4 linked regions of the Homo sapiens genome follow. The protein of the gene in region 2 purifies or fractionates together with the protein of the main gene of each other region. This does not show direct contact. Each region holds a gene or a part of one and is shown on either strand. Other genes may lie near its edges.

Evidence for each region.
Region 1: the proteins of MFAP5 (region 2) and GALNT18 purify together in Homo sapiens (affinity purification with mass spectrometry; one large-scale study listed by BioGRID and IntAct). This does not show direct contact.
Region 3: the proteins of MFAP5 (region 2) and MANBA purify together in Homo sapiens (affinity purification with mass spectrometry; one large-scale study listed by BioGRID and IntAct). This does not show direct contact.
Region 4: the proteins of MFAP5 (region 2) and MOCS1 purify together in Homo sapiens (affinity purification with mass spectrometry; one large-scale study listed by BioGRID and IntAct). This does not show direct contact.

Annotation. Positions count from the first base shown.
Region 1 is NC_000011.10:11,619,206-11,623,324, reverse strand, and holds the start of GALNT18 (polypeptide N-acetylgalactosaminyltransferase 18), read left to right. Parts: upstream 1-1,319; 5' UTR 1,320-1,731; coding exon 1,732-1,966; intron 1,967-4,119. UniProt on the Homo sapiens protein: Catalyzes the initial reaction in O-linked oligosaccharide biosynthesis, the transfer of an N-acetyl-D-galactosamine (GalNAc) residue from UDP-GalNAc to a serine or threonine residue on the protein receptor.
Region 2 is NC_000012.12:8,649,327-8,652,826, reverse strand, and holds part of MFAP5 (microfibrillar-associated protein 5 isoform a precursor), read left to right. Parts: intron 1-1,135; coding exon 1,136-1,165; intron 1,166-2,237; coding exon 2,238-2,325; intron 2,326-3,252; coding exon 3,253-3,326; intron 3,327-3,500. UniProt on the Homo sapiens protein: May play a role in hematopoiesis. In the cardiovascular system, could regulate growth factors or participate in cell signaling in maintaining large vessel integrity. Component of the elastin-associated microfibrils.
Region 3 is NC_000004.12:102,750,969-102,754,468, reverse strand, and holds part of MANBA (beta-mannosidase precursor), read left to right. Parts: intron 1-1,633; exon of another isoform or gene 1,634-3,222; intron 3,223-3,500.
Region 4 is NC_000006.12:39,927,963-39,931,462, forward strand, and holds part of MOCS1 (molybdenum cofactor biosynthesis protein 1), read right to left. Parts: intron 1-3,500. UniProt on the Homo sapiens protein: Isoform MOCS1A and isoform MOCS1B probably form a complex that catalyzes the conversion of 5'-GTP to cyclic pyranopterin monophosphate (cPMP).

The DNA.
Region 1 (4,119 bases), on a different chromosome or scaffold from region 2:
GGTAGAAGGGCCCTTGGCTGATGGGGCCATAAAGTGCCCTTTCTTTGGTTTTGTGCTCTCCCTCTCTTGTGGGGCCAGTCATTTGAATCCAGAAGATATCCCAGGATGGAGCTGCCCTGAGTATTTCTGTGGCTGGTTGGAAGGCTGGCACACAACAAAGTGGGCATGCAGCAGGCTGCCTCCCTGGCTTAGGCCAAAAAAATAAAGCAACTCAGAGATGGAGAAGAGGCAGGAAATCTATGTTGTAAAAAGTCTTTGTTTAAAGGAATTCCGTTCAGGTGCTGAGAACGGGGTGTTCAGCAGAAGAGGATAATATGAGTAAACATTGGCAGTAAGAACAAACACAGCAGTATCACTGTCTGCGTCTGGCCTCCTCCTGTGCTCAGTCACAGGTCTCTCCCACCGCCCTCTATGATAGCAATCATAAACAACATGTAGAAGGGCTTTACAGTTCACAGACCTCAGTTCCCCTCAGCGGCACTTCCTTGCAGGGTTTCTTTATGCACTGGATGACCCTGGTTCCACATAAATGAAAACTGGGCTTAAAGGACACATCCATGTCCTGGGAGCTGTACAGACTTAAAGAAAAACCTAGATAGGGGCAAAAATTGGGGCAGGCGGTGGGGGTGGGGGGTGGGGGGTGGGGGGGGGGAAGAAGTGGTCGAGAGAGTCATCTAATAGGTCACCAATGTTGCTTCTGGGAGGTTGCCGGAGGGTTGGCTCCTTTCAGCCAGGTTTAGGGCCAGGTCTGGACACACTCAGGAGGCCGGTGGCTGAAGGGCAGAGGGCAGGGTGGAGGCCCAAGTGAGGCCAAGGAAGGAGTGGATGCCGCTGGGGCTGGCACTTCCTTGGCTTCTCAGCGTCCTGGCAACCAAGAAAAGATTCCAGGAGTCGACTGGTGGCACCAATGCGAGAAGCCCCGGGCGGATGAAAGAAGCTGACCCGTGCGAACCCCCCACCCCCTCCACAAAACCAGGAGATTCCTGCCCAAGAGCAAGAGATGGAATTCCCCTAACGGAGGAAGCTGCCGACCTAAGGGCTGGGACTGGCAGCGCGCCCTCTCCGGGAGCTTCAGGTCTGGGGCAGCCTGTGCAGGCGCGGGTGGAGGCCCGGGCGCGTCCCTGGGGGCGGGAGCCAGGGGCGGCCAGCAGGTGGGGCCTGGGAGCTGGACTCCGCCCCCCGCTCCCTCCCCGTTGGTCCGCTGCCGCTCAGCACCGGCCCCTCTCCCGAGCCGGAGCGCGATTGGTGGCAGCGCTTGTCGCTCGGAGGGGGCCGGGCCGCTCTGCTTCGCGGCTCTCCCCGCCGCCGCTGCCGCTGCCGCTGTTCTCCTAGCAGCGCGGGCCGGTCGGACCGCCAAGGCAGCCGGCGCTGGCGATGGGAAGCGGCGTGGCCGCCGACACAGGCAGTGGCAAAGTTTCCCAGACGTACACATCTGGACGCGCGGCTGCCGGCTACCCGTGACCCCTCTAGGAAGGGTTCAGGGATTTTTAATTTGGAAAAAAATCCACCTGGTTTCCTTTGTCAAGGTCTCTCCGGGTGGCCAGCGGCAGGAGCTGCAAACTTGGGCACGGCGGCTACACCGGCAGCGGACCGGGCTTTGGAGAACCTCGGGACTCAGGTGCTGAGGTGCCCAGCGGCTCCGGACGTGCTACGGGGTGCGAGCGCGGGGGAGTTCGGGGCGCACGACAAGGAAGGGCCCCCGGGAGCTCTATATGGAGGAAGGAGCCCAGAATGGTGTGCACCAGGAAGACCAAAACTTTGGTGTCCACTTGCGTGATCCTGAGCGGCATGACTAACATCATCTGCCTGCTCTACGTGGGCTGGGTCACCAACTACATCGCCAGCGTGTATGTGCGGGGGCAGGAGCCGGCGCCCGACAAGAAGCTGGAGGAAGACAAAGGGGACACTCTGAAGATTATTGAGCGGCTGGACCACCTGGAGAATGTCATCAAGCAGCACATTCAAGGTACGGGCGCCCCGGAAACTTGGGTCGCCCATGAGGCCCGGGAGTGCCCCGCGCGGCGCGGGGTGCGCTGGGGCTGGTGCGCATCAACTCAGCCACGGCGGGGCTCTGGGGCCGCAGATGCGTGGTAGTCGTGGGGCCTGCGTGTGAGCTCCTGCCTGCGTTCGGGACCTTCTGTCTGCGGCCGTGCGCTCTTCCCCGGGGCACACGTGTGTGCGCAGGGCTGCACGAGCGGATGTGTGCAGCTAGCTGGCGGTATGGGGGCGCGCTGCGCACGTGTCCAAATGTGCGTGTGACTCTGGGCTGGTTGCTCGCGGGCTCTCGGGATCGCACACAAGTCCGGCTCAGAGTGTGTGTGCATGTGAATGTCTGTGTGTGTACAAGAGGGAACGCGCGGGCAAACGAGCTTTTTTGGCCACTGTAGGCGTCAGGCGAGATGCCCGCGCGGCGGCCCTGACTATTGGCAGTTAAGACCCGCAGGCTGCCGGACAAGCGAGGCTAGGAAAATTGCGTTGTATCAGCCCCAGCCCCAGTCTTGCTGTGATCCCGTTGGTAGGCGATAGGGAATGCAAGGAGCCCTCTGTGGTTGAAAAGCCGCTTGAACCTATAGCAGTCCCTACCCCCACCACAGCCCGCGGGTCCAGGACCCTCTCCAGGAGCAGGTGTCAACGCCGGGAAGTAGCGCTGGAGTCTCTGTCCACTGTGGTGATGACTCCGCCCAAGACTGGAAGAACACGCCCTGGGCTGCGCCTTCCCCGCGGAGCCGCCCGGGACCGGGTGAAGGCCGATCCCTACTGTAGCTCCACTCTCAGGCCCTGGGAGCAGCCGGGGCTGAGCAGACCTGGGTTGGGTCTGAAGTGTAAGGTTACGCTGGTTGGGTGCGCTCCAGACCAGCGCGGGGGTCCAAAGGGAGGGTGGGGGTTGCAGGGCGCTCTCCCGAGGCGACCTGGTCAATGAGCTGTCATGGGAGGGAATGGAGTTCCGGGCGCCAGGAGCACTGGTGCCGGGTGTGCACACACACACACACACGCGCGCGCGCGCGCGCTCACGTCCACACTTCCTCCCCTCCCCGCGCCCCCTGCTTTCTTCCAGGTGTGTGAGCTTCTTAAGGGCAGGGCCGAGCTTGGTTCCCCTGTAAACCTAGCAGGCCCACCAGGCTCAGGGGCCAGTGCATGGCAGACCTTGGCAAAATCGAATTGAACTGAAGGCTTACCCCCCACCCCCCCGCCAGGAGCACTCCCTTTTGTTTACACGTGGATGTCTGAATTCCAATCCTTGCACCTGCTGCTCTTGCCAGAGTAGAGATGGCTCCTCCGTCTGAATTTGGTGTTTCCCCAGGTGTCCAGAATAGTTCCTTTCCAGGAGGGGAAGGTTCAGGGAGGTTCAGGTGAGTGCAGGAGAGGCATCCACATCCATAGTGCTTCCTGACTAATGACTTCAAAACAAGCCCATGGCTTCGGCACCTTCCCAGAAAAGAGGGACATTGACAGCTTCTTCTTCAGACCTGCCTCTGCCTCTCAACCTGGCACTGGGCTTGAAAACCAATTTACCTATCTGTGGGTGCCAGTTGCTGTTATTTCTTACGTGTCCTTTTCCATCCCATAGGTCTTGATTGACTATTAATCAGCAATAGAAGTACAGTGTTTCCCCCAGGGTGATTCAGAATGTTCCCCAGGAGACACAAAGCCATGCCTTACTTTGACATTTCTAGTTTGCCGACAGATTTTGAGATTTTCATTCACAGATTCTGTGTGTGTGTGTGTTCCTGGAAAATGATTCTCTTGTGCTTTTCTTTCTGGTCAGGCAGGAGGTGAGCAAGGTACTGCTTTGGGGATGCTTTCAGGGGATGCCATTAACCCCTGAGCCTGTAACGGAGTGGGTGCCAGTCATGTGGAATGTGGACCATGTCACATGATTTCTAAGGTTCCACATGGAAAAGCATGATGTTGAAGTTGAAAGGAAGCATTGTGATTTTTCTCCCCGGAAACTTTATAACTATGTGTTGTTCAGCACTTTCAAATCTATACCTGAAAAATTGGAGAAGATAGGTTAAAAAAATAGGAGACAGGGTCCCTAAAACACGTGTTGTTCCACTTGTACACGTGCAATGACCCCTGTGGGTATTCAGAAATAACCACAATCTCGACAGAGGGCCA
Region 2 (3,500 bases):
AAGATAATTAAGTCTGTTGGATATACATTGAATGTGAAAGATCTTTGAAATATTCAAGAACTCTTCCATAAAAAGGCAGTTGGATTTATAGGTCTGGAGTTTAGGAGAGAGATGAGGTTGGAAATACAGGTTTGGGAATTATCAGCATATACACCTGCCTAGAAACCATGGGATAGATGAGATCTCATAACACAGGTCCTAGTATTCTATTTGCAACACTTCCAGTGACATTTTTCCTGGTAACTCCCCTGACTAGTCTATTCATCTAACTCCTTGGCTTGTTCTTCATTCTGTGAATAAGGCCCATGTTAAATTTGCCCCTAGGTTAGGATGACTCTCATTATTCTTTATTTATTTATTTATTTATTTATTTATTTATTTTGAGATGGAGTCTCCCTCTGTCACCTAGGCTGGAGTGCAATGGTACGATCTTGGCTCACTGCAGCCTCTGCCTCCCAGGTTCAAGTGATTCTCCTGCCTCAGCCTCCTGAGTAGCTGGGATTACAGGTGCACATCACTACACCCAACTAAGTTTTGTATTTTTAGTAGAGAGGGGGTTTCACCATGTTGGCCAGGCTGGTCTCAAACTCCTGACCTCAAATAATCTACCTGCCTTGGCCTCCCAAAGTGCTGGGATTACAGGTGTGAGCCATTGTGCCCAGCTGACCCTCATTATTCTTTACCCAACAGCTTCTATCAAGAGAATTTATGATGATGTATCTAATCTACAGAAAATAAATTTTCTCTTATAAGGAAGAGCTTGTACAGGATAATAATCTTTTCTCTGCTTAGCTCTAGGAAGAAGCTCCTCTGGGCATGTAACTCTTTGCCTTGTGTTCCTACTAAATTTGCTTCTTGTCAACAATACAGAGATACTCACAATACAATGAATTTCTCAACTCTTTAGAAAGGAAAGGAGAAAGGAAAAAAATCCCATCCTGCCTCCTAATGTCTTCAATTTTGTGGAGCAAATCAGCTCAATAAGGGTTTTCTTTTAGAAGTTGCTAAGAGTTATTAATTCATTTGCTCCCTATTTATGGGCACTCCAAGCAGGTCCTAAGTGAGGCAGTGTGGCAGTTACAGAAGTAGTAACTTCTAGAATTGGTAACAGTGGAATAAAATTTCTGCCTTTCAGCCTCCCTCAGTGAAAAAAATACCACTGCAGGTATGATTGTTGCTTGCATGCCTTCTTAAGCCTTTTTTTCTTCCTGTGGATTCCTTACCTCCTTGTTCTTTGGAGGGTACTTGGCACATCTTCTAGTTTACTTCCAATTATTTCTCAAAGAGTATTAGTGTTCTTCACTCCCTTACTCTTTTTTTTAAAAAAATGAGCACCTGTCATAAAAGTCAAGGGGAAAGAATGGAACAAATGTTGCATGGTCCCCAAATAGCCCTCTCCCTAAAGTACCCTTGCACATTATGTGGTGGTTAGTGGATTGGGAAGTGAAATCAATTTAACTTCAAGGACTCCATATTACCACGGAGGCCATGGTTAAAATTGCATTTCCTAATGTACTGATAATTCTGATATATAGCTAGGGTTGAAAACTACTGGAACAGAGAAATAGCAACCTGCCTAAGAAATCTGATTCTTTCAGAATGGGATTATCAGCATTTCTATTTTATTTTACTATTTTGTTTTATTTTATTTTATTTTTCTGAGATGGAGTCTCACTCTGTCACCCAGGCTGGAGTGCAGTGGCGTGATCTTGGCTCACTGCAACCTCCGCCTCCCAGGTTGAAGTGATTCTCCCGCCTCAGCCTCCCGAGTAGCTGAGATTACAGGCAACTGCCACCACTCCTGGCTAATTTTTGTATTTTCAGTAGAGACGGGGTTTTACCTTGTTGGCCAGGCTGGTCTCGAACTCCTGACTTCAGGTGATCTGCCCGCCTCGTCCCCGCAAAGTGCTGGAATTACAAGCATGAGCCACCGTGCCCAGCCTATTTTATATTTCATAACGGACAATTCTAGAAAGACTTTATTCCTAGAAGTGCTCTCAGAGATTATTTTATCCACTTCTACTTCCAAGTAGGGAAGCGCCAAAACTTCATTTAGTCAATTCCCTCTTGCTGTGTTTTTGGTGGACGGAAAGGATGTAGCCCAATTTATAATGATTCTCTGTAGAGATTACTCTGTATTTTTTTCCTACTCTATCTATCCTTCCCAATTCCTTCAATCCTTCATTTATGCTGCTTCTATTTGGACCTCCTTATTTTTTTGTATTGGGCTTCCTCAGAGTGCTGGGATGAGAAATTTACCTGCACAAGGCTCTACTCTGTGCATCGGCCGGTTAAACAATGCATTCATCAGTTATGCTTCACCAGGTAAGGGATCCCAGAATGCCCAAAAAGCATCTTCCATGGTAGTGTTTCTGTGTTGATAACTATTTAATGAGCACCCACTATGGAATTGCAAACTTTGATGGGGCCAAAGTTTTTAGCACAACCCTCCTAGTTATTGCTGAATGTACCAACTAGAACCTGGAGTATGGGCTGAAGTGTACAAAGAACAGGCAGAGTAATAGAACTTAGAAGGGAAATGAAGGTGGGCGCTGGAGGAAGAAGGGTCATGAGGGAAATACTGGCATGCTCAATTTATTACCTGATAGAAGGAGACTGAAGAGAATGGCCCAGCTCTAAGGTAGAAAATAGTGGGGAGGAATATTAAGCCTGACTTTAGGTAGAGTGTGCAAAGTGTCACTAAGAAGAATAACTAAAACAATGGCCTTTGCAACAACTTGGATGGAGCTGGAGGTCATTATTCTAAATGAAGTAACTAAACAATGAAAAACCAAATATTGTATGTTCTCGCTTATAAGTGGGAGCTAAGCTATGAGGAGGCAAAAACATAAGAATGATATAATGGACTTTGGGGACTCAGGGGAAAGAGTGGGAGAGGAATGAGGGATAAAGGCTACACATTGGGTACGGTGTACACTGCTTGGGTGACGGGTGCACCCAAATCTCAGAAATCACCACTAAAGAACTTATCCATGTAACCAAAAACCACCTGTACACCAAAAACTATTGAAATAAAATTTAAAAAACAGAAGAGTAATTAATACCATTCCCTCCCCTATTTTCCAGTTGGGGGGCAAAAGTCTGAAATACTTAAGAAAATACAGTTGGGGAAAAGCAGATAGGGAAAGTGGGGAATATGAGAGTTGAAGAGGCATCCCAGACCCAGGTGAGTTCTCCTCTCAAGGCTTTCTTCCATCTCCTTCCTTGCCTATGACACTGGGACGTCTGCAGTTTACGACGTATGTACATCGTCAACAAGGAGATCTGCTCTCGTCTTGTCTGTAAGGAACACGAAGCTATGAAAGGTAAGATGATGTCTGGATGTTTAATGGAGAGAAGCAGTTATGAGAAGGGTAGATAGGGACATGATATTACTATATCCAAAGTCTGGTACTAGAGGAGGGCTTCAGGCTACCCCCTTAGAGTCCATCAGCTCCTGCTGGAAGTTATCTCAAATAAACAATCTACATAAAGCAGTA
Region 3 (3,500 bases), on a different chromosome or scaffold from region 2:
GTGGCTTTTTAAAAATTATGTTATATACAATTACCATCAGTTATAATCTGTTACTTATTGTTGGATAGTTAGATTGGACTCCATTTTTTTCTATTTTTCTGATGAGGATCCTTTTAACTAAATTTTACTGTACATCTTTATTTTCTTAGACAAATATTTAAAAGTTAAATAGCTGATTCATAGGATATGTACTTTTATTAGTCATTTAGTACGTGCTTCTAAGTTGCTTTTCATAAACATTGTACCAGTTGTACACTGCCACCATTATTTTATCAGAGTGCTTATCTTAGGTGCTAGATTTGAATATTATTTAAGAAACAAAACAAAATCAATTTATTTTCTAGTAAGGTCAAATACCTTTATACGTTTATTTCATAAGTTTATTGGTGACATGGGCATTTCTAATTCATCTTCTTTTGGCTATTTATCTTTAATGGTGATTTTTTTTTTCTTTTTTTTTTTTTTTGAGACAGAGTCTCACTCTGTCGCCCAGGTTGGAGTGAAGTGGCATCATCTTCCTCACTGCATTCTCTGCCTCCCAGGTTCAAGCGATTCTCATGGTCTCACCGTGTTGCTCAAGCTGGTCTCGATCTCCTGAGCTCAGGCAATCCGCCCACCTCGGCCTGTCAAAGTGCTGGGATTACAGGTGTGAGCCACCATGGGTGGCCTCTTTAATATAGATTTATAAGGCCCCTTTGTTATATATTTTCAAAAATTCAAATTAAAACTAAATCCCCAAATGTCCCATTTATTAATGAAGTATTTTGTCATATGGATGTTTTAAAGCTGTGTATGTTGAAATCTTTTGTTTTCCTTTTATGATTGTTTCTGTCTTTGGTAGTTTGCTTAAAAATAATTCCTCTCAGCTATCTTTATAGTTCCTATATTTAAAATTTTGATTCATTTGAGGTTTCTTCCAAATAGTTAATTGGTTGCCTATAACTCATGATTTGAAGAATTTCTCTTTTGTCCGCTGATATATTACTTTTATCATGCACTAAATTCGCATATACTGATATAATATTGTTATTCCTTCTCTTTTAATCTTTAGAAAGGTTACATGATTAAAATTCTTTTAAAAATACGTATTTATGTAGTGTTCATTGGATAAAAGAAATACAGAAAATATAAAGAAGGAAGAAAAACCAATAAAACACATAATATAAAGCAGAAAAAGACCACTGTAAAAAAGTGTTTATCTTTCCACATTTTTTTCTAAGTATATAGAGACAAATATAACATAAAAATGAAATCATCCCCTAAGGTGGTTTTATTAGCTACTTTAACATTTAAAACATATCATGAATATATTTGTCTGTGTCTGTAAATATAGATCCAGGATTATTGCAAATAGCTTCATACACCCCATTATAAAGATGTGTTCTTATTCAAAATCTACACTTGAAAATAAAAATTATAAGTATATAAATATACACATATACTAAAAAGTGGTAGGCAACAGATACTTAGTACTTTTTCCGTAAATTTTATTATTACCTTATATTCTTCACATGCAATTGGGACAAATGGCCAGAGAAAGATATATTTTAGATGTGTAAGTTAATTAACTATAAACTGTAAGAGTACATCATAGTAGCTATACATGTGATTAACAAGCTAGTCACAATCATTCTTTTTATTTTATAAACACAAACTATTATAAATACAAAATAAGAAAAAGATAGTTAAATGTTAGCTGTTATGAAGAGTGAAAACATTATATAAATTTCAAACGGCTGCTTTCTGCATCTGCATCAGTATAATTTCATGATTTTCTACCAAGTTCATTTGTATAAAGAATCTCTATGATCAATTTATCATTCACTTTCATGCCCCCACATGGAAAGTGGTAGGTGAATATCTGTAGGAATACAATTTATTGTCTGCTTGTCCACTGAAAAGTAGCCCTGTGTCCCTATCCAGTCTACACTCAGAACTTTGTCTTCATGAGCAGCCAGATCATACAACTTCTTGTATCCCACAACTTGACAATGTTATCTAAAGATCCTGAAATCAGTTGCTGTTCATGGGTAGGAGACCATTTTACTAATGTCACGCAACCTGTATTTGAAGTTAGGGACAGTGACACCAAAGAATGGTCTTTAGTTCGGGGATCCCACAGTCTGGTATGCCTATCTGTGCTTCCAGATGCTAAACGTTTACAAAGTTGGAGAATGGGAAATACAATTAAGCACTTTATTTCCTGTCAAAGCTTGCCTTCAGACTGTCAGACTCAACATCCTACACTCTAATTGTATGGTCCCAAGATGCACTGCAGATTTCTTCAGCATCTGACCACAGAACTGAGGAAATTGCTTCCTTGTGACCAGAGAGGGTCACTATGGGAGTCATAGCTGCTCTGTGTTCTCTGTCGATTTGTGGATTCCTCCATTTCATCTTCTTCTTCTGTAGGGACTGTAGACCAGATCTTTAGCATCTTATCCCAGGAGCCACTACAAAATTTAGTTCCTGAGCTATCAACAGCTATAGACTCTGCACTTCCAGCATGACCTCTGCAGCACGGTCGGGCTTTCACTTTGTTTCTCTCTATTCCACTCCCATAAGAGAATAGTTGGATCCATAGAGGCACTCACAAATAAGCAAGACAAACTATCTTTTTTTTTGGCCCAGGCCACATCTTTTAAGACATCCCTATGTCCAACAATTGTCATTATTGACTTTCTTTCCAAGGACCGGATTTGAGAGGTCTTATCATAAGAACCAGTCAAGATCCATTCCTTTGCCCCTTTAACTGAAAGGATCCAGTCATCATGGAACATGCATTGCTCTGGCTGGGGTGCTGTGTACTTCACATATTCTATTTCCACAACTACTTCTGATGACATGTTCTCCAGTTCCATGTGTTTGACCAAGGACATTCGCAGAAACTGGCCCTTAATAAGGAAATAAAACTCCATATGTTTGTGGAACTCATTTTTGTCCTTTAGTAATTTATTGATGATGTTACTAAGGTCAGCAAATTCAGAGGCGGCAGGGATTGAGAAGGAAACATCATTTACAGCATATTTCTTGTTATCGGTGTAGAAATGTGTTTGGAGCTGAGCCAAGGCAAGGAGTACACACAAGACTTTTGGGTTAGTAGAGAGAGAATGGGAGCTCCTGTCTCTTAACTACAAAGAGGCCGCTCAAAATTAGACTGCACAGGTAAGCGAGAAGCTGCAGTCTAAGCCTGGACTCTGCTTTTCCTCCTTGGGTCTGCTCCACCCACAATCATTCTTTCTAAGGAGCCATGAGTCTGTCTATGGAGTCTCCAATCTGCAGGTTATCACTCATAAGTACATTCTAACAATATATGTGCATCAGTGTACATTCTACTTTTGTATTCTTTAAGTAGCAAATAAGCAGTTTCTATGTGAATTTTGTTAAACTTTGGGTGAATTTCAAACAAATAGTAAAATAGAGATACTTGCAAAATGAAATTTCATGTATCCATCACCTGGCTTCAACATGATCAATTCGTGGCTAATTTTGTTTCTTCT
Region 4 (3,500 bases), on a different chromosome or scaffold from region 2:
GTACAACCTGGGTCCCGACAGATGCTGATGAGATAATTGCTCCAAGGAAGTAGCATTTACCAAGCATCTTAAAGTTTCCAAAGAACGTTCTGTTTCATTCCCACACCCACTCCACAAGGGATTATTATAACTAAGGCTTGGATGGGGTCCAAGAACACCCTCGGCAGAAGCAGGATTCAAATCCAGGTCTTCTGATTCCAGGTTCTTTTTTTTTTTTTTTGAGATGGAGTCTCGCTCTTTTGCCCAGGCTGGAGTGCAGTAGCGCGATCTTGGCTCACTGCAAACTCCACCTCCCAGATTCATGCCATTCTCCTGCCTCAGTCTCCCAAGTAGCTGGGACTACAGGCACCCGCCACTGCACCCGGCTAATTTTTTGTATCTTTAGTAGAGACGGGGTTTCGCTGTGTTAGCCAGGATGGTCTCGATCTCCTGACCTCGTGATCCACCTGCCTTGGCCCCCCAAAGTGCTGGGATTACAGGCATGAGCCACCACACCCGACCCTGATTCCAGGTTCTAAATTACTCCCTTCTATCACAGAGAGAGTCCAAGAAGATAGGGAGGATGACAACTAGGGTGGGTAGAAGTCACTTCTCTAGAATATTTCAGACAAAAAAATCACGACCCTGGAAGTCATGCATGAGATCTACAGACAAGGTTCTGGAATGGGAATAAGAAACCCTGGTTTCTGCAGTAGGTATGACCTGGTACACTGTGAAAGTCCCTTAACTTCTCCAGGCCTGCTTTCCCAGTTGTAAAATAAGAATACAGCTACAGGCTAAGGTTGTCTTGCTAGGAGTAAAGACAGGGGTGGAGTGGTAGTGGTGGTATCAGAAGATGGTAGGTGAACACTTAAAATTATGATGAAGAACAGAAGGTCTCAGGCCCTCCAAAGGTCTAGCGCAACTATGCCTACAATTAGGAGGAAGAAGCATTTGCTTCAGTAAGTTCCTCAGCTCCAGCTGCACATTAGAACCATCTGGAGAACTTTAAAAAAACATTCCAGTGGAGACCAACTAAATCTGGATCTCTGAATCTGTTACGTTTTCAATCTCTCCAGGTAATTCTCATCGGCAGCCCTTGACTGGGTCAAGAGCCACTGAGTGGCTCAAAGATAAGAGACATGAGAGTATGTGTGAAGCTGCTCTTGATTTTCTGGGCCCATAAAACATTCCTCACTCTACCCACCGCGGGAGAATTTCCCACCTCCTCTGAGAAGCCCTGCTCACCATCCTGTGGGGAGTAAGCAGCAGTCACTTCTCTAACTGCCGTCTGCTATAATCACAACAGTCACTTCCTCCCTCCCTGCGGTATGATGGAGAAAACTCAAACTCAACCCATTGCCTTTCCACAGATAGCCTCAGGGTTGGGGCGGGGAGCACTCCATAATCAAGAATCCCATCAGCCACCGGAGTCCAGATGAGATACCTGGGAATCTGGATGTATTGCAGTGCTGTGCCCTCTTTTTCATCAACAGCTATTTGCAATTCAGTCATGTTAGTCACCCTAGATTCTGCCTCTTCACTTGCCAAGATACCCCCCCTCAACCCAGTCTTGACATGATGGGGGGATGGGGTGGCTGGATGGGGGAGGAGTCAAAATACATCAAAGAATTGGAAGTTGAGAGGACCAAGGAGCATTATTCAGCAGAAACCTGAGAGCAAGCAGTGTGATGGAGCAATCAAGAATGGAATTAGGGGCCGGGTGTGGTGGTTCACGCCTGGAATCCCAGCACTTTGGGAGGCCGAGGAGGGCAGATCATTTGAGGCCAGGAGTGTGAGACTAGCCTGGGCAACATGGCAAAACCCCGTCTCTACTAAAAAATACAAAAGTTAGCTGGCTGTGGTGGCGCGAGTCTGTAATCCCAGCTACTCGGGAGGCTGAGGCAAGAGAATCGCTTGAACCCAGAAGGCAGATGTGGCAGTCAGCCAAGATCGCACCACTGTACTCCAGCCTGGGCAACAGAGCGAGATTCTCTCAAAAAAAAAAAAAAAAAAAAAAATGGAATTTGGTGCTTTTGTTCTGGCAATGGGAGAGGCTGGTCAGATTTCACTTTTAAGAACTTCTGTGACCTTGTCTAGACTTATGCAGACTGCACCACCCGTTCTGAACCCAGCCTCCTAAACACACACACTCTCACCCTGCCAGCAATGCAAACTCATTACTCAGATATTAACGAGCCCCATTCCTGCATCTTCTCTCCTCTAACACTGCATGCCCTACTTTCATTCTTCTACTTTTTTCCCTGTCCCTTAAGTCTCCTGGAGGAAAAAAATATCAGCACCAGTCAAAGGAGCCCAAGATTCAGAGGGAATTATAGGACAGAGTAGACAGCAACCCTGCTTGCTCAGGAGGGCTGGGACATGCCAGAAGTAGTAGGAAGCACTCAACGGATCATATTCCCAGGGTCCCAGGCTGGCCTGGGCTGTTTCCTCTCCGTGAGAAGTCATTCTGCCTGATTCAGTATCCCCAGTGTCTAGCACAGGATGTTGGTACATTTTGAATCACATGAACAAATAGTCCTGTCCCTAATGTAAGCAGAAAGGTCGTATATGCAAAAGCCAGTTACATGGGGGTAATCATTTCCCGGCTGGTCTCTACTGTCAAAATGGTTTAACCTGGTATAGTGGTTTGAAACCCTGGCAGCCCATCAAAATCACTCAAGGAGCTTCAAGAAGGATTCTAGTTTCAAGAAGGAGCTAGAATCTGTCCCAAAGATTCTAGCTCAATCTAGTGCCTCAGCTGTGCAGCCAGGGCTGAGAACCATCGGCCTAGTGACACCAAGTGCCAGGTGCTATTTTAATCCAGGGCAAGTTGTTGTGGTTCTGAGCACAGGATTTGGAGTAGGTGAGCCTATATTACAAGCCTGGCTCTAGCTGTTGAGCAAGTCACCTAAATTCTCGAAACCTTAGTTTCCTCATCTATGCAGTGGAAATAATAATCCAACCTAACTCAGTTGGAGGAGTTCCTGGCACCGAGGTTTTCATTCAGTGATCCATGGAGGAACACTGTTGTGTGCTGTGATCAGTTTTTCTAGTTTGTCAGCTTCCCTTCCCTTCCAAGACCCTGGCCTTCCAACCCTACTAACAGCAGATGGCCAGAGGCAGGGTTTCAAAGCTGCTGCCACACCACCCAAGTGGGGTCTGAGCATCCCCAGGACCACCAATACTGGTGTGCATCAGCAGGCACTAAGCAGCCTGCCAGACACTACTGGTCATCTCATGTCTACCCAATGCAGATTAGGGTGAAGGGGGTGGGGAAGGGTGGGACAAAAGAGTTAAAGCGGGACCCTGCCCTCAAGGTGCCCTCCTCTACTAGTCACTCATCTTAGGCATCTGATTTGACTGCTAAAGGCTAGCCCTCAAATAGCTCCAAAGTCTAAACAGAGCAGCAGGGTTATTCGAGAGGAAAAAAAGCACATTCCAAATCTAAGTATCGTGGCCCTGATTTACCCTGCTATTGGGATGATGTATACTAAGGGTCTCTTAAAATTAATCTCTTT